Homo sapiens: one gene and its partner. The protein of the gene in region 1 purifies or fractionates together with the protein of each later gene. This does not show direct contact. Each region holds a gene or a part of one and is shown in the gene's direction. Other genes may lie near its edges. The genes, in order: DPY19L2 and GUK1.

Region 1 (16,685 bases):
AGTGGATGCTGCAGAGCAGTGGATATTGGTGAACAGCAAATGTTGCTGCCTGATCATTCCTCTGGAAATTTTGTCTCAGAGGAGTACCCGGCTGTGTGAGGTGTCAGTCTGCCCCTACTGGGGGGTGCCTCCCAGTTATGCTACTCGGAGGTCAGGGACCCACTTGAGCAGGCAGCCTGTCTGTTGTTAGATCTCCAGCTGCGTGCTGGGAGAACCACTAGTCTCTTCAAAGCTGTCAGACAGGGACATTTAAGTCTGCAGAGGATTCTGCTGCCTTTTGTTTGGCAACGTCCTGCCCCCAGAGGTGGAGTCTACAGAGGCAGGGAGGCCTCGTTGAGCTGTGGTGGGCTCCACCCTGTTCGAGCTTCCTGGCTGCTTTGTTTACCTACTCAAGCCTTGGCCATGGTGGGTGCCCCTCCCCCATCCTCGCTGCCGCCTTGCAGTTGGATCTCAGACTGCTGTGCTAGCAATGAGGGAGGCTCCGTGGGCATAGGACCCTCCGAGCCAGGTGTGTGATATAATCTCCTGGTGTGCCGTTTGCTAAGACTGTTGGAAAAGCGCACTGTTAGGGTAGGAGTGACCCGATTTTCCAGGTGCCTTCTTTCACCCCTTTCTTTGATTAGGAAAGGGAATTCCCTGACCCCTTGCGCTTCCTGGGTGAGGCAATGCCTTGCCCTGCTTTGGCTCATGCTCGGTGCGCTGCACCCACTGTCCTGCACCCACTTTCTGACAATCCCCAGTGAGATAAACACAGTACCTCAGTTGGAAATGCAGAAATCACCCGTCCTCTGTGTCGCTCATGCTGGGAGCTGTAGACTGGAGCTGTTCCTATTCGGCCATCTTGGCTCCACCCCTCACCAACTCATCTTACTTTGATTTATCCACATTTCCCCAGTTCCTCCATTGACAATTGGTCCTTGCTACTCACACATTCTTTCTTTCAATTTCTTCCTCTTTGAAGTTCATCCTTTGTATTTTCTGAGTGAAACTTTATTAAATGGTAAATCATTTCCCATGAGCTTTCCTCTGCTGTTTTCTTCCTTTCTTCATTAATTCAACCAGTATTTATTAATCTTCCAAGTGTGAAGCTGGGGATATAGTAATGAACAAGACAGATAAAGAACCTGTCCCTGTCCTCATGGTGCTTAGAATGTGTTAGGCTAGGGAAGTGGTGTATGGAGGGAAGATAAATGGAAGCATAGAAACGCTACACAGATGTGGGATTGAGCATCTGCATTCTCATACACAGACATGATCACAAAAAGGCAATTTAAGAAATGGTTTTTGGCCGGGTGCGGTGGCTCACGCCTGTAATCCCAGCACTTTGGGAGGCTGAGGTGGCCGGATCACTTGAAGTCAGGAGTTTGAGACCAGCCTGGCCAACATGGTGAAGCACCGTCTCTACTAAAAATACAAAAATCGCCAGGTGTGGTGGCATGTGCCTGTAATCCCAGCTACTCGGGAGGCTGAGGCAGAAGAATCGGCTTGAACCAGGGAGGCAGAGGTTGCAGTGAGCCGAGATCGCGCCACTGCACTCCAGCCTGGGTGACAGAGCAAGACTCTGTCTCAAAACAAAACAAAACAACAACAACAATAACAACAACAAAAGAAATGGTTTTTATCTTTCATCTGATTTTTGTATTCTGCATTATTGCTTCTCTGGGACTCAAGTAAAGAATATTTGCAGTAGTTTAGACAGTTCTAAGTTAATGCTACATGAAACTGTTAGAATCTCATCTTCATCTCTCAGTCCCTTAAATCCAATTTCAAAAGATAAAAATTTGCTTTTATTCAGAGTATTCAAAGGATGTGATCTAGACTCTAAAGTGCTAGTCTGTTTCTTAAAAATGATTTTATGTGGCTGGGCACAGTGGCTCACGCCTGTAATCTCAGCACTTTGGGAGGCCAAGGCGGGTGGATCACGAGGTCAGGAGTTCGAGACTAGCTTAGCCAACATGGTAAAACCCTGTCTCTGCTAAAAGTAAAAAAATTAGCCGGGTGTGGCAGCACGCGCCTGTAATCCGAGCTACTTGGGAGCCTGAGGCAGGAGAATCGTTGGAACCCAGGAGGCGGAGGTTGCTGTAAGCTGAGATTTCGACACTGCACTCCAGCCTGGGCAACAGAGCAAGATCCCATCTCAAAAAAAAAATTATGTTCACACCTTATGTATTTTATTTAGAAAGTATTTTAGCTATAACAAATTATACAATTGAGATTAATTTATACGTACACTTTTTAGAATTATACATTCAGGATTTAAACTTCAACCACATGGGTATGGTTTAGTACTATGATGTTTTAAATATAGAAAACTGTGATTTTAAATTCTGAGGTAATTTTGTGAAAAACTCACTGTATTTTACATGAATTTTGATTGTATTCTCTGTTTTTTTTGTTTTTTTTTTACAGTGGGACTCAACTGGGAGGTCTTATTACAGTACTGTGCTTCTTTTTCAACCATGGAGAGGTTTGTTTTCTAGAAAGCAATTTTTAAGAAATAGAAGAGGCTGTAGAGGAACAAGGAAATATACTCATCAAAACAATATTTAATTGTATACTACTTATGACTTCACAATATTTTAAAGACCCTTGTGTAATAAGTTGATATTTTAAGCATGTTGATTGAAATGTTTAAATAGCTAGAATTTCAAACATGAAATCTCTTGCCTTATTTTTAGTAAATATATACATATACATATATTCTGTAGAGAAAAGGAAATATTGTACTTGTTGAGTTGAATCATATCATGCACATTATCTGATTTATTCCCACTAAACTTTTTTTGTGGGTGGTGGTAGCCTCACCATACAAGTTATGAAATTTAAATTTAGAGAAAGTTAAGTTACTTATCCACATTCCACATTTACTACATGATGAAGCTGGATTTCCCATTCTATATCTGTCTGCCTCTAAAACCTCACATATATATTAATTTATATTTTATAAATTATAAAATTATAGTTATATTTTATAAAAACTTATATATTATATATATATAACATATATATTCAACTTTTTATTGTGGTCAGAATAAGTAACATATGATCTGCCCTCTTAACAGATTTTTAAGTATACAATATAGTATTAACACAATGTTGTATAGCAGATCTCCAGAACTTATTCATCTTGCCTAACTGAAACTTTGTATACATTGCACTCCCCTTAACAACAATGAAAGAGGCCTCAGGCCTGACAGCAGGGACACAGTTAAGACACTGCCACCTGCTCCCTCACTTCTTTCTGTTACATCATGCTGTCTGTTCAGTAATGCAAAATGCTCAATTCAAAATAGACATTAACTTACTAATTCAGCCCAATGAAACATAGTCCACCTAAAAAAGAGCTCATAGAAGCTTATTTCAAATATGATGGATTCATTCAACAAATTATTGAGTACATACCATGTCCATGCTCTGCTAGATGCTGAGGATATGGCATTGAAAAAGAGAGAGATTCTGACTACTAGCTCTTGGGAGCAATACATTTAATATGTTATGTCACAGGTTACATAGGGTAGAAGTACTTTTTTTTTTTTTTCAAGATAGAGTCTTGCTTTGTCACCCAGGCTGGAGTGCAGTGGCGTGATCTCAGCTCACTGCAACCTCTGTCTCCCAGGTTCAAGCAATTCTCCTGCCTCAGCCTCCTGAGTAGCTGGCATTACAGGCATGTGCCACCATGCTCAGCTAAATTTTTGTATTTTTAGTAGAGATGGAGTTTCACCATGTTGGCCAGGCTGGTCTCGAACTCCTGACCTCATGATCCACCCACCTTGGCCTCCCAAAATACTGGGGATTACAGGCGTGAGCCACCATGCCAAGCCAGGGTAGAAGTACTTTTATCCATTGCTCTTGGGTTAATTTTTAAAAATCAATTAGATAAAGGAATCATAAAAATTATACATAAAATCCTTATATATATTATTTTAAAGCAAACAAATGCATTGTCATTCAACAATGTGCTGACATAAAGACAAAGGCTTTTCTCTGAGTGTTCCAGACAACTGTTGGTATAAGTTGACTTTCTTATATGTATCATAATTCCTCTTCCAACATTTACAATTTTGGTATCTTGGAAGAGAAGCAATAACTTTTAAGACTCTTGCAAAGTAATAAGAGTTCACATTCTTTCTAGAATTTCAGAATTTTTGATGGAAAATTTTTCCAATACTCTGACCCATATGTCTTAGAAGTAATTTTAAAGTTCGTATGAAAATTTAATACCTTTATTACTTGCATCACATTTGTAGTTCCCAAATACTTCTAGTTGTTTTTAAAATATATACTTAACCTTTTTTTACGGTACATTTTACAAATTCTGAGGCAATCCTAGCTATTCGAAGTGTGTATTTATATTCATTCCTACTTGTTATGTAGAAACTCTCTTGGTGCTTGCAAATGACCTAGGTGACATTTGTTTAGCTATTTGTCTTGGCATGCATATATCCCAAAGCCTGGGATGCCAGGATCATATGCCAGGATCATACTGCAGGGCTGGGCTGTGGATCTAGTTGGTCAGTTCCAGAATTTTCACAACTCTTATACGTACAATCTTGTTTGTCCCTTGGGTTTCCTTTTGCTCGGTCTGATATATCTGTTGCTGGTTTCTGGACATGGTAGTTAATTGCTGTCTACATAATGGCCTCATGAGTTAAGAGAGCTTCAAAAACTGAGAAGCTATGCCAGACACTCAGAAATGGGATCTAGTGAGCCTAGTATTAAAATTACTAAAACAAACTCACCCCTGGTTTTTTAATATGTTTGTTGTAGTAAATAGGATGTAAAGTGGGCATTTTGTTGATTTCAGGCCACCCGTGTGATGTGGACACCACCTCTCCGTGAAAGTTTTTCCTATCCTTTCCTTGTACTTCAGATGTGTATTTTAACTTTGATTCTCAGGTAACTTCGATTTATAAAACGAAGGCAAATAAATTATAATTTAAGTTTCTTAAAATATACTTCAATTCAGCACTTTGGGAAGCTGAGGTGGGTGGATCACTTGAGGTCAGGAGTTCGAGACCAGCCTGGCCAACATGGTGAAACCACATCTCTACTAAAATACAAAAATTAGCCGGGCATGGTGGTGTGCATCTGTCATCCCAGCTACTTGGGAGGCTGAGGCAGGAGAATTGCTTGAACCCAGGAGGTGGAGGTTGCAGTGAGCCGAGATTGTGCCACTGCACTCCAGCCTGGGCAAGAGAGCAAGACTCCCTCTAAAAAAATGTAAATATATATATTACATATATACACTTCAATCTATGAAGTTGTAATTACCAAATTTAGACCATTTTTTAGTTATTTTAAAAGTAAATTGAGTATAGAGTTAAGAAAATAATTCAAAATTGCTATGTAAAAATTGCTCTCCATTTAAGAGTGTAGGCTACAGGTTTTAGATAACTACATTATGTTTTAATAAACCAAAAGGTATGCGTTTGTATATAGTTTGCCAAGATTCAAAAGTTTTTGAGAAACAATTACATTTTCTCTTCACAGTTTAAGTACTCTGACATTGTTTTCTAACCTGTGGTTTTGATAACTGTGCCATGAAAAAAGTGTTCTGTGTGCAAATGAATTTGGGAAATGCGGAGTTAGATGGATAAGGAGTATATATATTCACATATTTATGAAGCATTTCTGAACAACCAATGTTTCTAACAGGACAACCAGTTTCATTTCAAACTTTTTTTTTTGGATACACTTTTTTTGTAGGGATTACATTTATAAGCATTTTAGATATTTAAGAGGTCTGAGAAATGAACAAAAAACCCCATAAGTGGTAGAATAGTATAAATAACCTTATCAGAGAAATAAGTTTGATAGAATACTAATGAGAACTCTCACTGAATGAAATAATGATCACTATCTCCTCCAAACTCCCAGAGGACCCCATTCTTCACCTACTAGTCCCTGGGAGATTCTGCCTTATATAAAAGTCATTTGTTTGTCTTCCTTATTTTTTAAAACAGTAAATTTATGAATCGTCTACACATACACAAATTTTTATTTATTTATTTAGAGATGAGGTCTTGCTCTGTCACCCAGGCTGGAGTGCAGTGGCACGATCGGCTCACTGCAACCTCTGCTTCCCGGGTTCAAGCGATTCTCCTGCCTCAGCCTCCCAAGTAGCTGGGATTACAGGTGCACGCCACCATCCCCAGCTAATTTTTGTATTTTTAGTAGAGGCAGGGTTTTACCATGTTGGCCAGGCTAGTCTCGAACTCCTGACCTCAAGTGATCTGCCTGCTTCAGCCTCCCAAAGTGCTGGGATTACAGGTGTGAGCCACTGTGCCCGGCCAATTATATGTATTTAAAAGTACCACTGGAAACAGGGACCATGCCATATTTATCTCTTTAACCACAGAACACTGCACACGTCCATGCAAATATTTGTGGCACTCAGATAAAGCTAATTGAAGAGTGGTAAATAGTAGTGTACTGGGGTGGCACAAACCTTGAGAATGGAGCAGGCTAACTTCTGATTTCTTACCAACCTGACAAGTATATTCTGCGGTTGAATTTGGATTTAGGAACCTCCTCCTCATTCAGATTTCTATATCTTTGCTCTACACTTTGCCTTCTCTCAAAGATTAGGTGATGGAAGCTGCCCATTCTTCATCACCCCTTGCTATTCATTCCCAGTTTAATTCCTAGGAAGGTGGGTTATTTTTATTTTTTGAAGTGATATCAGTCTGGTCAGTCAGGGGTTTCATGGAATAAAATGTCTTAATTAGAACATTTAGGGTTGTATCATTGAGGGCATGTGCTATACTCTGTGTCTTAGTCAAAAGTAATTTTTGTTTGAAAAATATAAGATTACAAAGTACATAATGAGTATTTTATGATAATATTAGTAAACAATATGAACATTTAGAATTTTGTTTTTGAAAATTTATATACGATTGTACAAAGATTCATCAAAATCCAATACAGAATTTATAAAAGGAAGAGTTGCAGTTTTACTATTTATGTAAAATGTTTGTGTTTCTTTTTTCATATCTAAAAGTTACTGTAATTCTCTGTGGTAAAAGGTATTGGTTCCCAATACATCTCAGTAATGCAGAATGGACAATTTAAACTTCCACATGCTTCAGCTGAATTCTAGAATGATTTTTTAATTTTTTAAGATTCCTTCTCCTTAAATTTTTCCCATAGTTTTTAACTTATTACTTTGTCAGCACTTATATTTCTCTTCAAAGTTTTTTGAAGCACAAAAGTTGTGGCATATAAAAGTTGTTGCTACACATACAGGAGAAGCATGTTGAGGTGTGCAGGGGCAGTGCTGCATCCTATTTTCTGACCTCCTTGCTGGAGTAATAAATTTCTAATGTCATGCATATGTAGAGGAAAAAGAGCTTTTGTATTTAAAATATTTAATGGTAAATTACAATGTTAATATTAAAACTCTAATTTTGATTGCTTCATGCAAGGAATGAAGTATTTCAAGTTCTTTTTAGTATACTTTAAGAAGTTAACTATATTTTGTTGTATTATAGTAAAGGTAATGGAATAATGTAGATTTTATCATTTTGCAATTAGTCTTTCTTTTCAGTGACAGCCCATTTTTAGGGTGAAACTTACTGGTATCAATTCTCTCTATTAAGGACCTCAAGCAATGATAGAAGGCCCTTCATTGCACTCTGTCTTTCCAATGTTGCTTTTATGCTTCCCTGGCAATTTGCTCAGTTTATACTTTTTACACAGGTAAGATGATTTTTTAAATTAATTTTTATTTTTATTTTAAGTTCTGGGGTACATGTGCGGGATGTACAGGTTTGTTATGTAGGTAAATGTATGCCATGGTGGTTTTTGCATCTATCAACCCATCACCTAGGTATTAAGCCCAGCATGCATTAGCTGTTTTTCCTAATGTTTTCCCCACCCCATCCCTTGACAGGCCCCAGTGTGTGTTGTTCCTCTCCCTGTGTCCATGTATTCTCATTGTTCAGCTCCCACTTATAAGTGAGAACATGTGGTGTTTGGTTTTCTGTTCCTGTTGCTGAGGATAATGGCCTCCAGCTCCATTCATGTCCCTGCAAAGGACCTGATCTTGTTCCTTTTTATGGCTGCATAGTATTCCGTGGTGTATATGTACCACATTTTCTTTATCCAGTCTATCACTGATGGGCATTTGGGTTAATTCCATGTCTTTGCTATTGTGAATAGTGCTGCAATGAAGACATGGGTGCACGTGTCTTTGTAATAGAATGATTTATATTCCTTTGCGTATATTAATTAAGTTGAACGCAAGATGTACTTGGTTGTTTCCATATAAATTTTTAAATATGGTTACATTTACGCCCTAAAAGATTTTCAAAATAGGGAATAAAGTTTACTTAAAGGTATGATTTTTATGAAATAATATAATTCCACATTCTTTTACTGTATTGGTTAGTTTGACAGATTTTAAGGCTCGGCATGTGAAAGACTTTTTGTATTATTTTTATTCACAAATGTTATTTTTGGTGTTTGAGATAATATCTGTATATATCTACCTATAGATTTTCCTTTTGTCCTGGGAATCATTCTGGGTGCCAAGCTACACAGCATGCCAAGGGCCAATCCTGCTCTTCACAGCAGGACGTTCTGCTTCTAATTCAGCTGAATGTTGGCTGTTTTGTCTGTATAGCAGAATTTTACCTGGAACCATTTCTGTGAGCTTTAATCATAAAGCTCATCATTGCTTAAGTGAGCTGAGCCCATATCCTGTTTCTAAAGCAACTACATAACTAGTAACAAGAAACTGAACTGGGGAAGCAGAGAGTAAATGGAGAATTTTGATGACATTTCATGATACTAAGATTTTCCATCAGAGCTCCTTCCTACATAACAAATGCTGATGATAATAATAATATTCTATATTGGAAGTGAGAAATTCTGCCAAGAAGTCTCATGCTGCCAATAGCCTACAAAGAATGAAATTATAACCCCAGCTCAATTGGTGCTGCATGTTTAAAGTATTCCGTCTGTTTAACTTCATAAAAGTTGGCCCCTTTCAGGTTATAACACAGACATTATTCTATGGTTTTCATTATTTGCACATGCCAACAGAGTAGAATAGATTTTTAATGAGCATCATTTCATTGCAAGCAAATTTATTAATCCAGTGATACTGATGAAACTAAGAAGCTCTTTGGGGCCGGGTGTGATGGCTCACGCCTGTACTCCCAGAACTTTGGGAGGCTGAGGCGGGTGGATCACTTGAGGTCAGGAGTTCAAGACCAGCCTGGCCAAGATGGTGAAACCCCATCTCTACTAAAAATACAAAAAAATTAGCTGAGCATGGTGGTGGGCTCCTGTAATCTTGGGAGGCTGAGGCAGAGAATTGCTTGAACCCAGGAGGTGGAGGTTGTAGTGAGCCGAGATTGCACTACTGCACTCCAGCCTGGGTGACAGAGTGAGACTCAGTTTCAAAAAAAAAAAAAGAAGTTTGATATTGCTGTTAATGTTTTTCTAGTCATTCTCTGGATATATACTAGGCTTTCATTTTTCTTTACTAATGTATATAGTTTTGTTTGTATGTGTGTGTTTCATGCTTACAGAGGGATAATTCAATGTTATTTTCTGGAAGTACTTTAAGATTTTATTCTTAATTGTGTTTTTCGTAGATTAAGGTTAAAATTAGTTAATTGTGCAACCACATCTGGCTAATTTTTAATTTTTTGTAGCGATGAGGTGTCACCATCTTGCCCAGGCTGCTCTTGAACTCCTGGGCTCAAGCAGTTCTCCTATCTTGGCCTCCCAAAATGCTGGGATTATAGGCGTGAGCCACCATGCCTGGCCCAATTTTTTTTTTATGACTTCTGTGCTCTCCTGGAATTTTCAATCCTATCAGTTATTTCCTTGAACATTTGAAGCATAGTTTAAAGATATATCTGATTATGCCAGAGAAGTGTTTGAGTGATCTCCAAGCTAAGAATAATTTTTATATATTTAGAGGGTTATAGAACAAAAATAGAAAAAGAATATACAAGAGACTGTATGTGACCAACAAAGCATAACATATTTATTATCTGGCCTTTTATATAACAAATGTGCTGATCCCTGATCTAAATCTTTTGTGGATCTATTTCTATCATGTTAGTGATAGTGTCTTATCTCCATCTATGTTGGGTTATTTTTGATGTGGTGCTGGACATCATACATGAAAAATTGGAGAGGCGAGTAAAAAGCACTGATAAATCTTGAACCACCTTTATGCAATCAGATTGAGATGATCCGTAGATGGGTTTCAGTCTTTCTGAGGGCTGCTTGATTTCTGGTTCACTATTATAGTATGGCCTTTTGAAACTCCAAACTAAAGCACCCTTCTTGGTGCACTCTGCTGAATCTGCTGAAATGCCTGCTCAGCTTGTTGGTCTTCCAACTGCCTCTCAGCTGGAAGGCATCTGCCTCTGTTGAAATTGGCAGATACCTCTGGGAGAAAAGTGGCCTAAAATGTCATGCTCATCGGTATAGATTGCCATCCATCTTTTTAATTCTGCATTTGCTTTGTTAATAGTCTGTGGCTTTTATACGTATTTAAAAAATATTTTTATTTATATATTTATATTTTTCCTAGCCATTCTAGTTCTTAGTGGGAAGGTTGGTTCAAATTCCTTTGCTTACCATTATTAGAACTGTAGCCCTCCTCTTATATTTACTTTGCCTGTGAATAGTAAAGTGTTAGTTTTCTATACTTTTTTTCACTTTTGCTTTTTTATATTATTTCAGATAGCATCATTATTTCCCATGTATGTTGTGGGATACATTGAACCAAGCAAATTTCAGAAGATCATTTATATGAACATGGTAACATTTTTAATATATATAAGTCAAATATTAAGATAGGTTCTCAGAGTTTATAAAATCGAAGTGATTCTGTTTTATACGGTACCTCCTCTTTGGTAATATTTAATACATATGGTATTGGTGATATCCAGAAGGAAAACTGGAAATGTATATTATAGATGACATATTATAACAGATTATACTTTCAACTGGACTGTAGATGTGTTTTATTCTCTAGAACTTTTATTTTTGTTTTACTTATTATTATTACTACTTTTAAAACTGCCTTTTCTTTCTCAGACATGAGATTTTTAGCATTTTGCCTGAATATGACACTCTAACTGAAATTTTATATTCTTGCAATTTTGTTTTTGGCTTAGGTCCCAAACATAGCTTCCTTAAAAACATAAAAAGTTAGTAAAGCTTCATAAATAATAGAAGTCCTGAAGTCTAACAAAAATATGATTAGTAAAACTGGTATTTATAACTAAGTCTTTCTTATTATATTACTCCATTGTTAAAACAATAGAAATCATAGACTTATTTTTCATTGTTCCAAGTAGCAGATGGAGAAAAAGTTAAATTCTGCCAGATAGAGTTTATGGTCTTGAATTTTAATACTTAGAATCTAGCAGTGACTTGAAATTCTGTTATCATTTGGCCAAGAGTCATTCATCTTTATGCAAATAAATTTGCATTAGAAATGGCTATATACCTACAAAATATGCATTATGCCAATATATGTAATAACCATAAAATGTATTTTTTTCATTTTTTTCAGATTTCAGTTACCCTTAGTTTCATTTTGATGTTTGGAAATTCAATGTACTTATCTTCTTATTATTCTTCATCTTTGTTAATGACGTGGGTAAGTGTTTAGTTCATAAAGTTGGTTTTTTTTAACCTGCCAAATAGCATGTTTTCCTGTCTAAAACAGGTATAAGAGAATAAATAGGCCCTTTCCTGATTATCACTCAACATGACAAAATTCTTCCCAAGCAAAGCTTTTTATCTGTCTTATCCTTGAAAAATACTATAGTAGGAAGTTTTTCTTTTTAAGACAGTGCCCAAGTAAATATTTAAAAATGATCATAAAGTAATAAGACTTACTTTAATCATATCCCATTTTATGATAAAAATGACTTCTTTTCTCCTAAGTCACTTGAGGAGGTTAAGTACTCATTGCAGTGACACTGCCATTGCCCAGAACATTTTTGGAACTCCTCTGAGTTTCCTTCACAGACTATGGCACATTCTTTAGTATGTCTTGCCTTTCAAGAGTGGATTTGATTTTTGGAAATGACCAAAATTTTGTGAATATTTTGTGTGATTGGGCTGGGTAATACAGATCTTGCTCAAACGATGGTGTGACAGTAAAGTCATAAGACCGATTATTTTGCACCTATAACTAAATTATTTCTGAAGGCAGTTTAGAAAGTGTAGTTCCAAACTACTTTGAGTGATGGCAAGATAATTAGAATAAGTGTGCAGTCTCCTCACGGGAACTACATGGAATGACACTCTTTTGGATATGTGTTTGGAAGGGTGGTTTAGTAAATCAGTTCTATTACATTGTAGTTATACTTCTGATATCTATAAGCCAGAACCTAGAATATTCTCCTGTACCTCCCATCTCCACACTGATCAGAAATGATACCAACTACGGTAATGCCAAAATATAGCACTTTTCCATGTATGGTGCAGTGATTTAATCTTTTGGGATTGCCCTTATGTTTTAACATTTTTGCTTTCCGTATCCTTCTTCCCTCATAGTAATCCCTCCTCTTTCTCTCCCAGAAAAAATGCTCTTTCTTTCCAACATTTTGTCAAACTATTTCACCATTACAGAGTAGAGGACTCCTAATAGTGTGCTCATCTACCTCTTTTAATGAAAACTTTTTTATTTTGAAATATAGTACAGATAAAACTGCATAAAGCAAATGTTTTGTGTGCTGACTTAGTGCTGGCTAATACTGATGAGTACAATGTCCCCTTCGTGTCTGCAGGGATTGATTCCAGGACACCCCCAACCCCTGTGGATACTAAAATCTGCAGATGTTCAAGTTTCTTATATAAAATGGTGTGTTATTTGCATATAATCTATGTACATCTTCCTATATACTTTAAATCATCTCTAGGTTACTTATAACGTCTAATGCAATATAAATACTATGCAAATAGTTGTATACTGTATTGTTTTTTCATTTGTACTTTTTAAACTGTTGTATTATTATTATTTCAAATATTTTCTATCTGCTGTTGGTTGAATCTGCAGCAACTGGAACCCATGGATGTGGAGGGCTGACTGTGTTATGTATTATGTGGCAAACATTCTTAAACTACCATTATATCAAAATTATAACTCTCTAAATGAGTGTAGAAGCCTCCATGTGACCTGTCCCAAAGCACTCCCTTGTACTGCCCTAAAACGATAATGACTATCTTGACTGCTATGATAGTAACTTTCCAGCATTCCTTTATAGTTTCATCACTTAAGTTTCTCTTTTTAGCTACAAGTTTCCTGCATATCTGCCTGGTTTTATCCTCATGAAATTTATTTGTTGAAGAACCACAGTCATAGAACATGTGGAGGATTTCATGGTCCAGATTTTGCTTTTTGAGTTCCTGTGGTGTAGCTAAGCATGTTCCTTTGTCTCATGGTATAGCTTGATATATTAGAAATTGGATCTGAAACTTGGATTGCTTCAGGCTTGATCACTTTTGCAAGTCTTTAGTATTGTTCTTTCATTAAAAGGCACATAATGTCTCTCTTTATGGTACTAGCCTTCAGTGCCTTATGCTGGCTCTGTTAATTCATTAGGGATTGCAAAGTGGTCACATTCTAATCTGTCATCTAAAGTTCATTTAGGAGAAGTAAAGTAAATGTTGATTTACCTCTTTATTTGCAAGTTTTAAAAATAATGAATTGATTCCCTGTCATCTTCCAAATGTAGGCTCTTTGGGCTGTGTATATGTGTGTTTAGGTTTCATTAGGAACATAGGGATTTAAACATTTTTTATGTATTTCAAGTTAATTGAAATTAACATCTTTACTCATTCTCAGATTGTTTCTTTGTTGACCAGGGGAGCCTCTTTAGGTTTCTACTAAGTTCTCTGACATGACACTCGTGGTCTGATAGCATACTTGTGTCATGTATGACAAGTTTTTCCAGGTCTCTCTTGTGTACTCCTGCCCAAAACCTGGAGGAAGCCATTCCTGCAAGGCACCCTCGTTGCCTTTACTGGGGAAATGGTGTTTTAAGACCGCAGTCTGGGACCCAAGGATGCTCATTGATACTGAGTAGGTCATTGTTTCTAGGCCTTATTAGTGGGCAGAGCTAGGAAATATTATAGGTTGCAGGCTCTCTTTCTTTAAAAATCTACCATGAAAATATGTGTGTGTGCATGCATTTATGGTAAACTAGCTCACAAGTTCTGATGGGTATTTCCAAATCAAATTCAAGAATGTAGGGTTTTTACTTAACTCTTTCTATCCTGTATTTGCTTTTGTTTCTTGTGGGTCTCAAGAAGCCAGGGGATGATAGAATATCATATATCCATTTGCCTTCTCCCAAAGTGTGTGCATGAGAATTGCTATACTGCACCACGCACATGATTATGAGAAATAAAGAATTTTTTGCATATCCTTCTTTCATTCTCTTCACCCATTTTATTTTTTTTACTAATTCTGTATCTATATTGTCAGAACAGAGTATTGCATACTGTACTTTCTGCCTTATCAACCTTATTTCATGTTTTTATGTGAAGAAATATGCATTTATTTATCACCAGTCTTTATGTCGTTATCTCCCAGTTATCTTGGTTATTTTAGTCTTGTTCTACAAGAGAATTCCTTCAATTCTGATGTGTTTGTCAGTTTGTTTTGTCACCTTTTACTTGAAAGTGAAGTTGGCTCTATGTAAAATTCTTGTCTCTTTTATTTTTACTTTTTCTTTCTTTTCTTCTTTTTTTTTTTTTTTTGAGACGGAGTTTCGCTCTTGTTGCCCAGGCTGGAGTGCAATGGTGCAGTCTTGGCTCACTGCAACCTCCAACTCCTGGGTTCAAGAGATTCTCTTGCCTCAGCCTCCCATGTAGCTGGGATTACAGGCGCCTGCCACCACGTCCAGCTAATTTTTGTATTTTTAGTAGAGACGGGGTGTCACCATGTTGGCCAGGCTGGTCTCAAACTCCTGACCTCAGGTGATCTGCCTGCCTCTGCCTCCCAAGTGCTGGGATTACAGGTGTCAGCCACCACGCCCAGCTGTCTCTTTTATTTTTTGCTTTGAGAACTTGTTTTACTTCTGTCCAAAAGGGTTGCTATTAAAAGTTATACAAGTTTTGATACGTTATAAACGTATCACTTTCTCTTGAATACTTTTTATCTTATTTCTTTTTTTATTTCTAAAAGTTTCTTCTCTTCACCTTTTATAGCTCTTAAGGCATTATTATTATGTTCATTTCCTCATATTCCTTCTAGTTTTTTATGTCTGAAATTATTTTTGTTTTATTTCAAATTATTTGATTTCTGTCAGCTCATTTCTCAGTTTTTCTAATTTTGATTTGTGTCATTCTTTCACATATTTTAGTATTTTAAAATATCTTATTTTAAATGGCTCATTTTGAAATGTAAGTTTTGTTTAATTGTTCAGTCTTTCATCCTTAAGTAACTGTGTTAGCTATAGGATTTTTCAGAGAAGCCCTTTATCAGCTTAAAGAAGTTCCCTTCTGTTCAGCTTGCTGAGTTTTTTCAAAAATGAATTTCGAAGATATGATATCATATAGTTTCTCTTTTCTGTTTTGTTAATGTGCTGCATTATATTGGTTGATTTTCAAATGTTATAGCATCTTTGCATTCCTTGAATAGACCTCACTTTGGTCATGCTGTTTTATTATTTTTTGTGGGATACAGCTTTCTAAAATTGTACTTACGATTTTGCACCTAAGTTCATGACAATAATTGGTTCATAGTTCTCTTGTGACATCTTTGTCTTTTTTGGTATCATGGCAATGCTGGCCTCATAAAATGAGTTATGAAGTGTTCCCTCTTCTCCAGTTTTCTGAAGAATTTGTGTAAAATCCTTATGATTTCTTCCCTAAATATTTGGTAGAATTTACCAGTGAAACCATCTAGGACTTTCTTTGTAGGAATGTTTTTAACTACAAGTTCCATTTCATTAATAAGGTATAAGGCTATTCGTGTTATCCATTTCCTCTTGAGTGAACTTTGGTTGTATCTTTCAAGGAATTTTTAAATTTTATTTATGATGTCAAATTCATTGACAAAGGCATAATATTTTATTTCTTTTATGTATCTATAGTATCTGTAGTGATAGTTCCTCTTTCATTCCTGGTATTAGATGTTTGTGTTCTATTTTTTTTTCTGATCAGTCTGGTTAGAGGTATATCAATTTTATTAATTTTCTTAAGGAACGAGCTTTTGTTTTCATTGATTTGCTCTACTGCTTTTGTTTTCTGTTTCATTGATTTCTACTCATTCTTTATTACCTCATTTCTTTTGCTTACTTTGGGTTTTGCTCTCCTTTTTTCCTAGTCCTTTTTTTTTTTTTTAAAGGTATAAAGCAAGGTCATTGACTTGAGACCTTTCTTGTTTTTTGTTTTTAAACACAGGTGTTTAGTGCTATAAACTTTTCTCAAAGTACTGCTTTATCAACATCCCACATATTTTGATAAAGTACATTTTTAAATTTATTTCATGTTATTGTCATACATTTTACTTAAACATGTGATATAGAAATCTCAATAAATTTTTGTTTTTACTTAAACAGTAAATTACCTTTGAAAAGTATTTGAAATTTTTAAAATGTTATATATTTACCCTGTAGTTACCATTTTCGGTGCATTTTACTTGTGTACAGCCAGATTGACCTACTGTATTCCTGCTGTCTGAAAGACCTCCTTTA
Region 2 (15,858 bases), on another chromosome or scaffold:
ATGGGAAGCATTGTCAAATAACTGATGCTAAGCCATCTTTGAATTATTTTTGTGTGGACATGTTATTAATATGTGTTTCATAAATTGTATAAAATTCGTAAAACTCTGGTATGTTAGCCATGATTTTGGTTATTTTGTTAAATCATTGTATGCCACAGAAATAATTAAATTTCCTTGTCAACTGAGACATTATTATTAGGCACTCTCACCAGATCTTTACCCATGGCCATTTAAAGTGTGGTTGTTCACAGTTAATTAGTTTATACTCATGCTTTTCTAAAAGTGTTTTGCAAGCAACTATAATCCTAAAGTGGTTGTGTCTTCAAGGAGATGCATGGAAACCTTGGTGCTTTGGGAAAAATTCTCTCAAATTGGGTTTTTTCCTTTGTTCTCACACTGCCATGACAATCAACACAGAAGACTTCTGTGACGAAAGGTGTAGGGTTTTTCCCCACACACCAGGCAGTGGACACCAGCGAGGTGTCCTCCAACTCAATTCTAACACTATCTACCTGGAGACAGTGTCAGATTCCACAGGCTCGGGGCTCAGTCCCCAAGACTGCCCCTGACACTCCCAGACACCAGTTGCAAGTCCAGGTCTTGGGAACGTCTGACCAACTGGCTTCAAGTTGGGGGTGCCACAACCCTCTCTTTGGGTTTTATTAATTTGCTAGAGTGGCTCACGGAACTCAGGGAAACGTGTTTTCTTGTTTTGTTTTGTTTTTTGTTTTTGTTTTTGTTTTGAGACAGTCTTGCTCCATTGCCCGGGCTGGAGTACAGTGGCATGATCTCAGCTCACTGCAACCTCCGCCTCCCGGGTTCAAGCATTTCTCCTGCTTCAGCCTCCTGAGTAGCTGGGATCACAGGCGCCCGCCACCATGCCCAGCTAGCTTTTGTATTTTTAGTAGAGACGAGGTTTTGCCATGTTGGCCAGGCTGGTCTTGAACGCCTGACCTGAGGTGATCTGCCTGCCTTGGCCTCCCAAAGTTCTGGGATTACAGGCTTGAGCCACCGTGCCCAGCCAATTTTTTTTTAACTTGAAACACAAATGCTTTATTTAAAGACACATCTCAATTCCTGCGTGGCAGGCCAAGAATAAAATAAAGGAGAACGCAGCACACCATTCCCACTGGTCAAGTGGTCGAACCCAACATCCAAGACCCAGCCAGCAGCCAAGCTCAGCGCAACCTCCCGACCTCTGACTCTGACTGCAACAGGGTGAGCACATCGCCCTCGCACACGGGGCCTTTTACATTGTGGATGATGGAGCGGCTCGCATCCTCCATAAATTCCATGCACACCTGCGACCACTGTCCTTTAGAGCCCATTCTGCCCAGAAGCTTGGTGACCCTGACCAGCTTGATAGGCTGCATGTGGCTGGTGTCCATGATGGCAGTGCGGCGGCAGTTGGGTGAAGATAATACTTATGTTTGCTGGTTTATTAAGAAGGGTATTTTTAAGGATACAAATCAACAGCCAGATGAAGAGACGCATAGGGCGAAGTCTGGAAGGGTCCTAAGCGCAGGAGCTTCTGTCCTCATGGAGTTGGGGTGCAACACCCTCCCAGCCTGTGGATGAGTTCTTCTTCACCTTTCTCTCAGCCTCCACATGTTCAGCTCTCTGGATGCCCCCCAAATCCTGTCCTGTGGGCCTTCTATACTTTATTGGTTGTCCATGATAGAAGCATGGACAACTGTGTCAAACACGATTGGATAAAAATAAAGTCTGATCTAAACCTAGCAGGACCTGTCCACGTCCTTCCTCCAGAGTATGGCGAAGGACCCTTTCTGGAATGAGGGTCTTTTGATCCACAATCAGATTAGAGTCCTGCCTTGGGCAAGTGAAAGAGAAGGTCAGAAATATTCTGTCTCCTGAGACCCAAAGCACCCAACATGCTTTGTAACAATGGTTCTGGGAACTATGAGCTAGGAACTGTGGACAACATCTCTATATCAGGACACCACAGATGGAAAAGACTCTGACAAGTACAGATTTCTGATCATTTTAAGATCATACCACTGGGCTGGGTAAGAATTTCTAGAACTCTAAGGGAAAAGCTAGACTCACCAAATTGCTAACCCAACATCAAGCAGGACAAAAATTAATCACACAAGACTAAATGGACTGATGAATTATGGGTTTCTATGTCTTTTTAGAATTCAAAAATATTGCTGGTTCTTTCGTTTTTCAGATTTAGGGAAACCTTTTCTTTTAGGCTATCTATAGCTTAAGGCAATTTGGTAACATACCTTTGTGAACAAAAATGGAGACATTGCTTTTTTCTCCCTACCTGATCCTTCCAGAATTTAGAAACTACTCATGAGGATTCTTATTTTTATGACAAAATAATTATTTGTATATGCTCAATAGAATCTGCTCTTGGCTGGGCATCTCAGCCTCCCAAAAGTGAGGGATTAATCCCAGCACTTTGGGAGGCTGAGATGGAGGGAAGATCACTTGAGGCTAGAAGGTTGAGGCTGTAGGGAGCTATTATTGCACCACTGTGCTCCAGCCTGGGCAACAGAGTGAGGCCCTGACAGAAGAAGAGGAAGAAAGAAGAGGAAGAAGGAGGAGGAGAATCTGCCCTCTTTATAACAGGACACAATTGGAAATATTGGTTATATTATGACTGGGATATCGAAATTGAGACTGTAGATACAGACTTTGCCTGCAGTACTTACAGACGCATTCTATCTACACTGGCTTCCTAGCATCGAAAGATTTTTAAAAGTTCATTTTGAGATTCCTGATCTAAAGTTCCACCCAAGCAAACTTAAAAGAGCCTATGTGGTTGATGCTATTCTCACTGAACTTACCTAAATAAGCAGGGCAAGTTTGATGAGGCTAAACATTTTGCAAACAAATTAGTCTTACTCTGATTATCTCTGGTAGAAATGAGGGGCAACTGTAAAGAGAAAATGTATGTTTCAGAAGAAAGAACATTATAGTACACTTGTTCTTAGATTGTAGCCTTGTTTGTTGTTCTAGAGTTTTTATTATCTACCTGCAGAATGGACTGGACCCTGAATTCTTCTTGTTTCCTCCAACATATGTTGACAACTCTCCACCTTAAGAACAAAGCTACTAAGCTGGACAACTTGATGTAAGCATCAAGGGACAAGTCTCATGCCAACGTGTGGACCATACAGAGTTCACCAAACCATCTGTTGTCATAATCAGAGACAGTCATATTACAAATCAGGACCAGAAGTTGACCATTTTACATTGTGAAGCTTTTCCCCAGATATCCAAAGAAGACTAGCCTCTTGCCCCTCTCAATTTTTCCTTGCTCATGCCTATCTCTTTCACTTGGCAGGCTAATGCTGTAGTTAGAATTTCACACCAGTAGCTTCTGTGGGTTACCTGATAAATATATCGGGTCTGTCAGGCCAGACTCTCATCTTTATGACCCAACAGATCCTTTAGTTTACTTAGTGGGTAAGTTTGGCAACATCCCTGATGCAACTGTTTGGCATCAAAGCAAACCAGACCCACTTCTTCTCACTCCCTGCCTTAATTTTACATAGATTACCTACTAGCTGAACAGGAAGGGGTCTGTGTGGTTTCTGACACATCTTGTTGCACATGGGTAAATACATCAGGTATTGTAGACTCAGCTGCAAAAAATTAACAAACAGGCTACTTGGTTAAAATGGGTAGACTCCCCATCTGGCTTATTGTTTGATCTATTCAGTTTTCGTTGGTTGGGTTCACAGGGACTCTGGCTAAGGAACATACTCCAAACCCTTGGTATTATCCTCCTGACAGTCACAATAGTAGTCTCCCTGGTGTGTTGTATCCTTTCAAATGTTTTAAATGTTTGCATGTGACCATCCATTGAACATCAAATGGTCCCTCTTCAGCTGGAATGACACAAACTCAAAGAAATGCATGATCATGGCCAGGCATGGTGGCTCACGCCTGCAATCCCAGCACTTTGGGAGGCCAAGGCGGGCGGATCATGTGGTCAGAAGTTTGAGACCAGCCTGGCCAATATGGTGAAACTCCATCTCTACTAAAAATACAAAAATTAGCTGGGCATGGTGGTGGGCACCTGTAATCCCAGCTACTCAGGAGGCTGAGGCAGGAGAATTGTTTGAACCCAGGAGGTGGAGGTCGCAGTGAGCTGAGATTGTGCTATTGCACTGGGCGACAGGGCGAGACTCCGTCTCAAAAAAAAAAAGAAAGAAAGAAAAGAAAAGCATGATCATGAAGACACTGTAACCTATCAATGACATGTTGAGACCAGAAACCCAAACTGATAGTAACTGAGAGAGGCACTTTTAAGTTTTGGTCAAGCTAGGTGAGAGCCTGATCAAAATGGGTAAAAATTGTTTTTAAAAAATCATGGGAGGCCATTGTTTTGGACCGAGCTCTTGCACTAGGTCCCAATAGACCAGGCCAAACCAAAATTAAATCACTTATGTTAAATACTACATAAGAAACTAAATCCCAAAACAGATTAGTTTTTCCTCAGTTGGCATAATAAGGAAGTCCCTTCTTCTCTCTAACCCTTACAAAAGAGTAACCTGAAGTAAGCTAAGGTTATCAATCTGTTATTTTTCTATCTTGTTTCCTCGTTCTCCTCACCTTACAAAACCCATGGTTCTGCTATCGCCCAGGCAGGGGCTTTTTTTTTTTTTTTTTTTTTTTTTGAGATGGTCGCGCTCTGTCGCCCAAGCTGGAGTGCAGTGGCGCATCTCAGCTCACTGCAAGCTCCACCTCCCGGGTCCACGCCATTCTCCTGCCTCAGCCTCCTGCGTAGCTGGGACTACAGGTGCCCGCCACCACACCTGGCTAATTCAGGCAGGGGCTTTTATTCTATTTTGTAGAATGAAGGCTGCCTCAATTCATGAATCACGAATAAAAGCCAGCGAGACCTATGAATACATATGACATAATTTTGCCTCTGACAGTGAACTTCCCCTTTTTTTGCCTAAAAAGCTTCTCCTTGCCCACCTCCCCCAATGCAGCACCTATGGTATGACATAGCACATGTATTCCAGGTTACAATCCCTTGTCCAACAAACTGTTTTATTATTAGTATTTAAAAAAAATAGAGACAAGGCTTTGCCATGTTGCCCAGGCTGGTCTCCAACTCCGGGGCAAGTGATCCATCCGCCTTGGCCTCCAAAAGTGCTGGGACTGCAGGCATGAGCCATGGTGCCCAGCCCCAACACATTTTTTTGAAGTTGTATTTTTTAAAGTTTTACTTTTTTTCTTGCTCTCCTGCAGTTCACATTCAATACTTTTTTTTTTTTTTTTTGAGACGGAGTCTCATTCTGTCGTCTAGGCTGGAGTGCCGTGGCTTGATCTCGGCTCACTGCAACCTCCACCTCCCAGGTTCAAGTGATCCTCCTGCCTCAGCCACCCCAGTAGCTGGAATTACAGGGGCCCACGACCACACCCAGCTGATTTTGTATTTTTAGTAGAGACAGAGTTTCACCATTTTGGCCAGGCTAGTCCCAAACTCCTGGCCTCAGGTGATCTGCCTGCCTCGGACTCCCAAAGTGCTGGCATTACAGGTGTGAGCCACTGCACCCAGCCTTCAATAAATCTTTTTTAAAAATTTAAAATAATTTTTAGAAATAGAGTCCCGTGGCCAGGTGCAGTGGCTCACGCCTGTAATCCCAGCACTTTGGGAGGCCAAGGTTGGTGGATTACCTGAGGTTAGGAGTTCAAGACCAGCCTGGCCAACATGGTGAAACCCTGTCTCTACTAAAAATACAAAAATTAGCTGGGCGTGGTGGCGGGCGCCTGTAATCCCAGCTACTCGGGAGGCTGAGGCAGGAGAATCGCTTGAACCTAGGAGGCCCAGGTTGCAGTGAGCAGAGATGGCGTCACTGAACTCCAGCCTGGGTGACAAGAGCGAAACTCCGTCTCAAAAAATAAAAAAAGAAAGAAATAGGGTCTCGCTCTGTCACACAGACTGGAGTGCAGTGACACGAACACCGCTCACTGCAGCCTCGACTGCCCAGGCTCAAGCGACCGTCCCACGTCAGCCTCCCGAGTAGCAAGGACTACAGGCACAAAAAAGTTTTTAAATTTTTTGGTACAGAAGGGGTTTCCCTATGATCCCCAGGCTGGTCTCCAATTCCTGGCCTCAAGCGGTCCTCCCGGCTCGGACTCCCAAAGAGCTGGGATCACAGACGTGAACCACGCGCCCGGCCACATTCCCCAATTAATGGTTTTTGGAGAGTGGCCGGTTTGGAACGGGCTAGCGGAGTCGTTCGTTAGTTAGGTCCCTGCAGTGTAGATGGAGGACGGAAACGGCGCTGTGACATAAGCGGGAGGAGGCGGGCTGAGGCAGCGCTGTGACGTAGCAGATGAAAGCCGGGCCCGCGCTGCACTGAGGTACTTCTCTGAGTGACAAGCGGGACAAGTACGCCGTGGGCGGGGCCGGCGGGTCGTGATGTTAGTTCGCGCTGTGTGGAGGCGGGCCGGCGTGGCGCTGTGACGCAGCGGGAGAAGACGGGCTGGGAGGGCGCTGTGCTGAACGCCCCTGCGGTCGCGACAGGCCAGCGCAGGTGGAGGCGGGGCTAGCGAGGCACTGAGGTAAGTACTTCCCTAAGGGGCGGGGAAGAACGAGTGAGACATGGGCGGGGCAGTCGCCTCATGACGTCAGTCTCGCGCGCGGGCGGAGGTGGGCCGGTGCGGCGCTGTCACGTAGGTTCAGTGGGCGGAAGAGGTGGCCCCGGATGCTGCGGCGCCCGCTGGCCGGGCTGGCTGCGGCCGCCCTGGGCCGGGCCCCACCGGACGGTGAGTACGACAAGCGCGATCGCGAGGGTGACTCGGGTCGAGGCGGCAGCGGTCCCTGCGCTTTGCGGTCGCCCAGTCCACGCCGCCTCCGGATCTCCTCCTAGCCGAGACGCCCTGTGCCGCATTCAACTGTGGGCCCTGAGAACGGGGGAGCTCTGGAGGGCGGACGGGCTGGCAACGCAGCGGAGCCCGGGTCCCGGAGGGCGGGGCGCTCCTCAGGAGCTGGGCAGGCCGGCAGTTATCGCAGTGTCGAGCTGCTCCCCGGGCGTATAGGAGCGCTCGGTGTCTTCCCGACACCTGGGCGCGCCGCCAAAGAGAGCAGCTGGGAGTCCCTACCGCTGGCCCGGCGCGGTGTGCGCTCCGGTTCCCACCTCACCCTGCAAGCCTTGGGGTCCTGGGCGGATGGAGCCGGCTATTCCGGGGCTCCCAGGATTCTGCCTACTCCGCGGCACGGCGCAGAGACGGGGACTTGGGGAAACAGCAGGCCTTCCCGACGCATGGGTGTGGCATTTGGGGTTCGGATTCTCCAAAGCCAGAGTCCGGGTTGGGGTTCTTGAAGCTGCCCTGCTGCCATTCTTGAGCGTCGCCTTAGAAGTATGCCCCAGTAAGGACTGGTGTGGGAAGCAGGTGCCTCAAAGTTGATTTTGACCCTGCGTGTGGTGGGCCTCGGTTTCGTCTTTGCATGAAAGAGGTCGGTCCTGAGGCCCCGGGCTGGGTCCTGCTCTGCTGTCTTTGGGCTCATGGCCCCTTCCTGTCTCAGGCTTGCTCTGCTCTTTACCTGGGGTTGCTGTCGAGGACCCTGTGCAAGACTCGGCCGGTTTTTCTTTCTCCCTGATGGACAGACCCAAACATAGCCGCGCAGCATCGTGAAGGGCTGGGGCCTTCACTCCTCTGTGGCTCTGGAAGAGCCCGATTTCCTCAGGAGGTAAAGGAATGTTCCTGTCCCCCCCGGGGAAAGAAAGTGAAAATGAAAGCGCCCTGGCTGCTCCTGGTGTGGTCCCATTTAAAACGAGGTTGCTGAAGGCCAGGATGCGTGCTACCCGGATGTGTGCCCAGAAACCCTGCAGCCAAGAGCAGCCGCCTGGACCACCAGCCTCCCCTTCATCCACCTGGCCCAGCCCAGAGCCCAGGCCCACGTCTGGTGGTTTGTGTCTTACGAGAGGCCAGGCGGGGGCTGAATTCTCTCGGTTCTCAGAAGGTCAAGCCCTCTGTTAGCATCTCCTCGAACAGTGGGCCGGGGGCAAGGTGGTGACTCTGTTCAGTCCTTAGGATGGCTGGAAGCCAGAAGGAGGAGATTATGCCGCCACAGCAGGGAGTGCCTTTCCAGGAAAGCGGCTGCTGGGGCAGCATGGGAGCCCAGTCCAGGGAGCGTTCTGGCAGAGACCATTCCGGAACATGGATCTGCGCCGGCGGCTCCCAGGAGACCTTCCATCTCGGAGCTCCTGTGGAGACCACGTGCCTGGCAGGTCCTTACAGTTGTGGGTTGTGTGGCTTCTTGCCAGGCAGCTGATTGGAGTTTGCGACTGTGGGTTGGTGAGAGTGGAGAGCACAGAATGTTTGCTGGAATGCTTCCCTCTGCCCACAGGAAGACACCTTTGGCGCATGTGTTCTGGTCAGGGCAAAGGCTCCGTGGTTTCCACCGCAAGATTGCAGGAGCCTTGAGGCCTGGGCCACAGTTTTCTCCCTTGGGTGTGCTCCATGGAAGGTGGCTTTGGTGACCGCCCTGCCACTGGTCTCTCCCCAGGCAGGCAGGCAGCCTGTGCCTCCGCCCTGTCTCCAGCGGTGGTGGTGTGGCTGTGCTTCTGCAAGGCCCGCATCCACTCACTGTCTGCCCTCTGCACTCTCTGGCTGGCCAGGGCCCCCAGTAGTCTGCTCATTGTGCCCTCACGCTTGGGCAGAGCCGAACTCAGGGGACCCAGGAAGAGCGGAGTGTTGGCCCGTCCAGAGTTCTTGGCAATTGGTGTGTCATGTGTGCCTCGTGCCCTGTGCTGGGCGAGAGTGGGCACAGCTGCGCAGACAACGCCCTTGGCGAGGCTGGAGCCTGGACCCCTGCCTGGCAGCAGCTGGGTGAACTGGTGTCTTCTGCCTGCGGGCCCAGCCTCACCTCAATAGCTTACTGCTCCCTCAGGAGGGAGGAGGGGAGGCCTGGGAGCCTGGGCTTGGCGGGGTAAGGGTGGTGCAGGGGCAACACCTGTGGAGGAAACAGGCGGGGTTGGGGCCCACCAGCGTCTGCTGTCTGCTCTGTGCTGGGTTGCATCTGTTGGTGTCTGATCGTTGTCAGGGCCCTGTGGTGAAGAGACACACCTGCCACTTGCTGCTTGCGAGGAAAGGGGGAGATCCCCAACCCAGGAGCCAGAGGTGGGACTCCAGCACCCCCCATTCCTGGGAGTTGGAAGTGAGGCACGAGCTCCCCAATTCCTGGGCATCGGGGATGGGGTTTGGGGCCGAGGAGGGGATGGAGACCAGGGTCTTGTGGTAGTTTGGTGGGATCCTCAGAAGGTGTGGCTCTCCCCCTTCTGAGGACGCAAAAACTCCCAGAGTTTTTGGCGATTGATGTGCCACGTGTGCCTTGTGCCCTGTGCTGGGCGAGTGTAGGCACAGCTGTGCAGACGACGCCCTTGGCAAGGCTGGAGCCTGGACCCCTGCCTGGCAGCAGCTGGGCGAACTGGTGTCTTCTGCCTGTGGGCCCAGCTTCACTTCACTAGCTTAGCGCTCCCTCAGGAGGGAGGAGGGGAGGCCTGGTCAGTGGAGGTCACCACTGTGTTTCCTTCTGTGTGGGTTTATAGTCACGTAGCATCTAGGTTCAGACCCGAAGAGCTTGGAGCCAGGGGCTGGGGGGAACAGGGCAGGACCGGCCTTGGGGCAGCCCTGTCAGGCCCACCAGTGCCATGCTGGTTGTGGGTTGGCAGGGCAGAGTGACCTTAAGAAGGGCCAGCTCAGTGGAGCAACAGGACAGAAGCTCACATGGGGTCCAGCCCACAGGACCATTTGAGTAGCTCTCCCATATCGGGTCCTTCGAAGCACATGATTTAGCTTTACTTTTTCTCCTTCGTATTAGAAAAGTCACCATAATACCATCAAGTCATAATTTCTGTGATCTCAGTGCTTCAAGTAGGTGTGTAGCAATTGCTGGATGTGTCCTGAGAACTGTACCCCTTCCACCCTGGCGAGAAGCAGGGGCCAGAAATTCACACAAGTGGCATGGCTCATTGATTGTGGGAGACTCTGGGGGGCTCCTAGCTAGTGCATTATGGGAACCAGGCTGTGGAGGTTGCAGGGCTCGCTGGCTGGGAGAAGCTGAATGGATAAAGAACCCTGGCCACTGCAGTGCGTGCTGATGGTTGGCTGGCACGTAGAGGAGGTGGCAGGGCTGGGTGAGCAGCAGGAGCCAGGTTAGTGGGGAGGCCCGAGCTAAGCGCAGGGGCAAATTCTGCGGGTGGGAGAGCCAGGAGGGCATGGGGTGCATGGTGAGATGAAAACGATGTGTGCTTGTGACAAAAAGCCCAGAAGAGGCAGTAAGGAGGGAGGAGTCTATCCCTTATGGAGAGCACATGGACTTCTGGGTGGGTGTCCTGCAGTTCCCTTCCTCTTGAGTCTTTTTAACTGGGGGTCCGGTGTGTTTGTGATCAATGACATGTATGCGTGTGCATGTGTACCTTTGCAGGTACACATGTGTGGTGTGTGTGCATTTGCTTGGTGTGCGTGCATTTGTGTGTGTGTTTGTGTGTGCATGCATGTGTGTGTGTTTGTGGTAGGTTTGTGCACACATCCTGCATACCTTTGTGCCTGGGAGTGGCATGTGTGTGGTGGGTGTCGCTGTGCATGATGGAGTTGCAGCCGTGGTGCATTTGTGAGATTACCTCGGTGGCCTAAATTGGGGATTAGGAGGGCATCCTCAGGTCCTTCCCACTGTCTGCTCGTCTGCCCACAGGCGGCTGTGCCCTAAACAGGAGGAGGCCATTCACGCCTCGCCTGAGTTGTGTCCAAGGTGTGCGTGTGGCCAGGGGTCCATCCGCTTCCCTCTAGCCCAGCCCCTGAACACAGCTGCAGTGCACGGCCCCACTCCTCAGCTCTGCTCCCCATCCCAACTCGAAGACGCTGCCCTGGCCCTGTGTGTGCAGCTCATGTGGACTGGGAGGGCAGGGCAGGTGCAGGTCTTGGGGCAAGAGCTGGAGCTGTCTTTTCCTTCCTGCACAGCCGCAGAGCAGGTGGATGGGGCTGCTTCCCTGCAAGGGCCCAGGGCCAGGCCCCCTGGGGATTTATTCGTGGCTTAGAAGGGTGGGGCCAGAAGCAGGCGTAGTGGGGATTAGGGACTCAGCACCCCCAGCTCTCAGTCCAGCAGACAGACCCACCCCAGGCTGACTACAGAGGCTGCACCTCAGCAAACAGGTAGGCCCTGTTCTTGGGGAGGATTCCCACCAGGCAAAGGCCAGCTCCCGGGCCCTCACCTGCCACGTGTCCAAGCTAGGATCCTGTTTGCCTTTCCCTTGGGGGCTGGGAGGGAGGCCTCCAACCCCCTCTGGCATTACCAGCATCACAGATAGGAGTCCCAAGTCCTATGAGAAGTTCCTGGAATAGGTGTAGATTCAGTAGATCTTTACAAGACCATATCTGCAGGGCAAGGTACCAGAGGACAGAGGCGGGGACAGGGACACTTCCATTCCAGACCTAGCAGCCCAGCACTCAGCACCATGCATGGGAGCAAATGGCTGGACTCCTGGGTGGGGTGGGGGTCTCAGAGCAGGCTCCCAGAGGGCTTGGAGGTGACTCCACCAGGTGGGGACGGCAGCTCCCAGGTAGGGTGTCATCAGAGTAGACAGCATTGCTTGCTAGGGACCCCTGGGGAGGCTGACAGGGTCAGTGGGTTTCAGTTGGGGGGCTCCCCTGCTGAGAACCCAGTAAAGCCGGCCTTCCATTCGTCTCCCGTGTGCCCAGAGCCTGGTCTGAGGGCCGCCCTGTGCATGCCGGCCCTTCCAACGTGGCAGAGCTCAGGGGGAAGAACACCCAGGCTCTCAGGAGACTCTCAGGCCAATGTCTCCATCCCTGGGTCAGCCCTTTCCTGCCATGAATTCAGGAAGGCAGAGGCAGCTCAGCAGATGGGGACTAGAGGCCGCACTGCTATCCACAGCCTCTCTTCTCACCCCCAGGCATGTCGGGCCCCAGGCCTGTGGTGCTGAGCGGGCCTTCGGGAGCTGGGAAGAGCACCCTGCTGAAGAGGCTGCTCCAGGAGCACAGCGGCATCTTTGGCTTCAGCGTGTCCCGTGAGTCCAGGGCTCTCGTGGAGGGGTGCGTAGACCTCAAGGCTGCTGAGTAGTCCTAGCACCGTGAGCAGGCCAGGAGCCCAAACCCAACAGGCACACCCACCCTGCAGACTGTCCGAACTCTTGCACACTCCCCCCCACACAGAACCTGAGGTTATCACACTCCTGCTGTCCTGCGTGCCTGTGTCTCCCTTCCCTGGGTCTGTTGAGTACTGATAACTGGGCCACAGTGTTTCTTTCTGGGAGAACCCTCGCCTTGTAGGCTCCTGCGCCTTCCCAGTGGTGTGCTTCACTGGCTGCCTGCATCCTGGGGCTCAAGTGCTGTCGGGACTGCAAGGGAAACGCTGGGTGGGGCATTGGGCTCCGAGCAGCCCCCGATGGGTGACAGGTCTCTCTGCTAGATACCACGAGGAACCCGAGGCCCGGCGAGGAGAACGGCAAAGGTGAGTGGGGTGGGGCCCTATGGCTGGAGCACCCCCAGTGTGGGCAGGGCTGCTGGGCCCTGCAGCTGTGTTGGCTGTGCTGCCCGTCTCCTGCCCCCATCAATCCCTAATCTGTGAGATGGGTCCTTGCCTCCAAGGGCCGGTGAACTCAATCAGGGTGTCAGCGCCACAGCGTGGTGTCGCCTTCCTTGGGTACAGTGTGAGAGGCCGGCCAAGGCCTGGGGCTGTCTTCCTCCCACCTTGGAGGCGGCCACAGTGCTGCTGTCCCCAGCCCTGTCCTGGACTCGGCACTTATCAGCACTTTTGAGCTGTCTTCTGGAGTCCTGGTAAAAAGGGCTACTCTGCCTGCCTGATTCAAGACAAGGGACCCCCTTCCCAACAGCACCCCCGCCCCTTGCCGTGCAACCCAGTGGTCTCCAGTCACCCCACCACATCGTCCCCTCTGTAACCTGACGGTCTCCAGTTCCCCCACCACCTTCCCCCAGAACCTGTTGGTCTCCAGTCCCCACCCCATCACCACCAACTCCCAACTCCCCACTGGAACCCAGCAGTCTCGTATCTCCATCAGTGAGGACAGTGTGAGAAATGGTGTCTGGCTCAGGCACTTGGCAGCACTTGAGGGGTCCTCAGATGTCTCCTGCCCAGCAAGGATCTGACTAAAGCAGTCGTGGGTGTGGGAGGGGCCTGCAGGCATGCCTGGGTTGGGGGCAGCTGGCCCTGGGCACCCTGGTGCAGGTCCAGTCTGCCCTCTGGATGGCCCCTCCTCTTCCCCAGATTACTACTTTGTAACCAGGGAGGTGATGCAGCGTGACATAGCAGCCGGCGACTTCATCGAGCATGCCGAGTTCTCGGGGAACCTGTATGGCACGAGGTGGGCCATGCGTGGGTGTGGGTGGGCTCCCAGGGTTGCTGTTGGCAACAGGGATCCAGGTAGTGCCTGCTGCCTGCCCGCCATCCACACCACCCACCCCATGGTTATGAATGTGGCCAGGTTGTGGCCCAGGGCCAGGCTCCCACGTCTGTGGCCCACAGTGGCTCTTTTCATGAGGCTGCTGGGCCCGGTCCTGCCACCGTGCATTGTCCTGGCAGGGTGAAGGGTGCACAGGACACCTCATGCTCACTACAGGCACCTTGGGGAGTGGGTGGCCTCTGTTCCCTGTAGGCGGGGCAGGGCGTGGGGGTAGCAGGTTTGAGATGCTGTCGGGTGCTGGGTCCAGGCCAGGCCTAGGCTCAGCTGTGGGAGGAGAACGCTGGGCCCGGGAGGGCCTGGGTGTCCCTGAAGCTCCTGTAGGCCTCAGAGAGCCCTGGCACCCCTGCTGACCTGGCACCTCTCCCCAGCAAGGTGGCGGTGCAGGCCGTGCAGGCCATGAACCGCATCTGTGTGCTGGACGTGGACCTGCAGGGTGTGCGGAACATCAAGGCCACCGATCTGCGGCCCATCTACATCTCTGTGCAGCCGCCTTCACTGCACGTGCTGGTGTGTGCTGGGCAGGGTTGGGGGCTGGGGGCCAGGGCATGCCAGGCTCTGATTGCCACCCCCTTTTTAGGAGCAGCGGCTGCGGCAGCGCAACACTGAAACCGAGGAGAGCCTGGTGAAGCGGCTGGCTGCTGCCCAGGCCGACATGGAGAGCAGTGAGTGTGCCGTGGGATCACCAGGGAATGCCAGGAGGGGAGTCAGGGTTCTGAGGTCTGTGGCACCAGGGACCCTGTGGGTCCCCAGACCTCCTGACACCTGGAGTCCCTGTGAGGGTCCTCAGACCTCTCAACTACCTCCCAACACCTAGAGTCCCCGTGAGGGTCCCCAGAACCCACCCCCAGTCACCAAGGGTCTCATTGAGGGTCCTCAGATTTCCCTCTGTTACCCAGAGTCTCCGTGAGGGCCCCCAGACCCCCCATCGCCCAGGGTCCCATGAGATGTCCCCAACCTTCTAGCCCCGGGGGTGTCATGTGCATCCTCTTACAGCTGTTGCCTCTTCTCTGGGTCTGACTGCAGCCCACAAGAAGAGGGCATTTAATGTTCTGCTGTGTGTGTAGAGGATAGTGTAGCCCCTAACCAGAGTCCTGATGGGTGCTGGTGTCCAGACCCAAGTTCTGGGGCTCCAGAGAGAGCAGGAGTGGTGCCTGAGGACTGAGGCCCAGGGGGCGGCCCTTCCCTACCCTGCACAGGCCCGGCTGGGCTGGAAAGCTGTCCCACAGCCGCAGTGAGGACAGCCGCAGGCCAGTGGGCTGCTCTGGGGGTCGTGTGGGACCTGGGGTGGGGCTGCATGGGCTCACTGTGCCCTGACCCCAGGCCCCACCCACAGGCAAGGAGCCCGGCCTGTTTGATGTGGTCATCATTAACGACAGCCTGGACCAGGCCTACGCAGAGCTGAAGGAGGCGCTCTCTGAGGTGGGCCCATCCTTGTGCCTACCTGGGCAAGGCCCAAGGGGAGGCCTGGGGGCCAGGCCTTTGTTGTCCATGAGGCCACTGAGGTTAGATGGGACAGTCCTACCCAAGCACTGGCATGAGACACCGAGGTCCACGGTGGAGGGAGAGCAGGAAGCCCAGCCCTTCCTGGATACCAGCCCTCCCAACTCCCTTTCTTCCTCACTGGCAGGAAATCAAGAAAGCTCAAAGGACCGGCGCCTGAGGCTTGCTGTCTGTTCTCGGCACCCCGGGCCCATACAGGACCAGGGCAGCAGCATTGAGCCACCCCCTTGGCAGGCGATACGGCAGCTCTGTGCCCTTGGCCAGCATGTGGAGTGGAGGAGATGCTGCCCCTGTGGTTGGAACATCCTGGGGTGACCCCCGACCCAGCCTCGCTGGGCTGTCCCCTGTCCCTATCTCTCACTCTGGACCCAGGGCTGACATCCTAATAAAATAACTGTTGGATTAGAAACTCCATAAATGAGTGGAATGTGGCCCCAAGGTTGGTGGGGCCCCATCATCCCGATCGGGCCCTGAGCTCCGGCAGCCCACCCTAACCACCAGCCCCAAGGAGGGCCACAAGATGGCCTCTGCCTAGGCATCTGCTGCCTGCCGGCTCGTGGCTGCTGCCCCAGGGCAGCATGATGCTTGACTGGCAGGCAGGGAAGGTGGCAGGGCTGGTCCCAACCCACCTGGCAGGCTGGCAAGTGGGGAGCAGGAAGCGGCTGCATGGGGCAGCCTGAGGCTGCAGGGGTGGGCCCTGAGGGCTGCCTCTTGGTGCCCGACCCTGTGGGTCTGGCATGGGCCAGAGGTTCCAGGAGAGGCCCCTGAGCTCTGGCAGCTGGAGGTTCTAGATCTCGAGGTCTAAGGGGTTCCCTGAGGGAGATGCCCCTCCCCTAGCTGCCCCAGGGGCTGTGTGTGGTGTGTGAGGAGCCTCCTCTGCTCAGGCTGCCTCCCTCCTTCCCCAGTGCTCCCCCAGCTTGCCTGT

What was found.
Region 2: the proteins of DPY19L2 (region 1) and GUK1 purify together in Homo sapiens (affinity purification with mass spectrometry; 2 studies listed by BioGRID and IntAct, with this or other methods). This does not show direct contact.

What each region holds. Positions count from the first base shown.
Region 1 is NC_000012.12:63,612,251-63,628,935, reverse strand, and holds part of DPY19L2 (probable C-mannosyltransferase DPY19L2), read left to right. Parts: intron 1-2,409; coding exon 2,410-2,467; intron 2,468-4,804; coding exon 4,805-4,896; intron 4,897-6,293; exon of another isoform or gene 6,294-6,652; intron 6,653-7,598; coding exon 7,599-7,698; intron 7,699-10,707; coding exon 10,708-10,785; intron 10,786-11,545; coding exon 11,546-11,632; intron 11,633-12,770; coding exon of another isoform or gene 12,771-12,844; intron 12,845-16,640; coding exon of another isoform or gene 16,641-16,685. UniProt on the Homo sapiens protein: Probable C-mannosyltransferase that mediates C-mannosylation of tryptophan residues on target proteins. Required during spermatogenesis for sperm head elongation and acrosome formation. Also plays a role in acrosome attachment to the nuclear envelope.
Region 2 is NC_000001.11:228,133,605-228,149,462, forward strand, and holds GUK1 (guanylate kinase), read left to right. Parts: upstream 1-6,674; 5' UTR 6,675-6,698; coding exon 6,699-6,759; exon of another isoform or gene 6,760-8,029; coding exon of another isoform or gene 8,030-8,225; intron 8,226-11,091; exon of another isoform or gene 11,092-11,148; intron 11,149-11,906; coding exon 11,907-12,020; intron 12,021-12,421; coding exon 12,422-12,463; intron 12,464-13,237; coding exon 13,238-13,334; intron 13,335-13,801; coding exon 13,802-13,940; intron 13,941-14,010; coding exon 14,011-14,095; intron 14,096-14,766; coding exon 14,767-14,852; intron 14,853-15,060; coding exon 15,061-15,093; coding exon of another isoform or gene 15,094-15,248; 3' UTR 15,249-15,347; downstream 15,348-15,858. UniProt on the Homo sapiens protein: Catalyzes the phosphorylation of GMP to GDP. Essential enzyme for recycling GMP and indirectly, cyclic GMP (cGMP). Involved in the cGMP metabolism in photoreceptors. It may also have a role in the survival and growth progression of some tumors.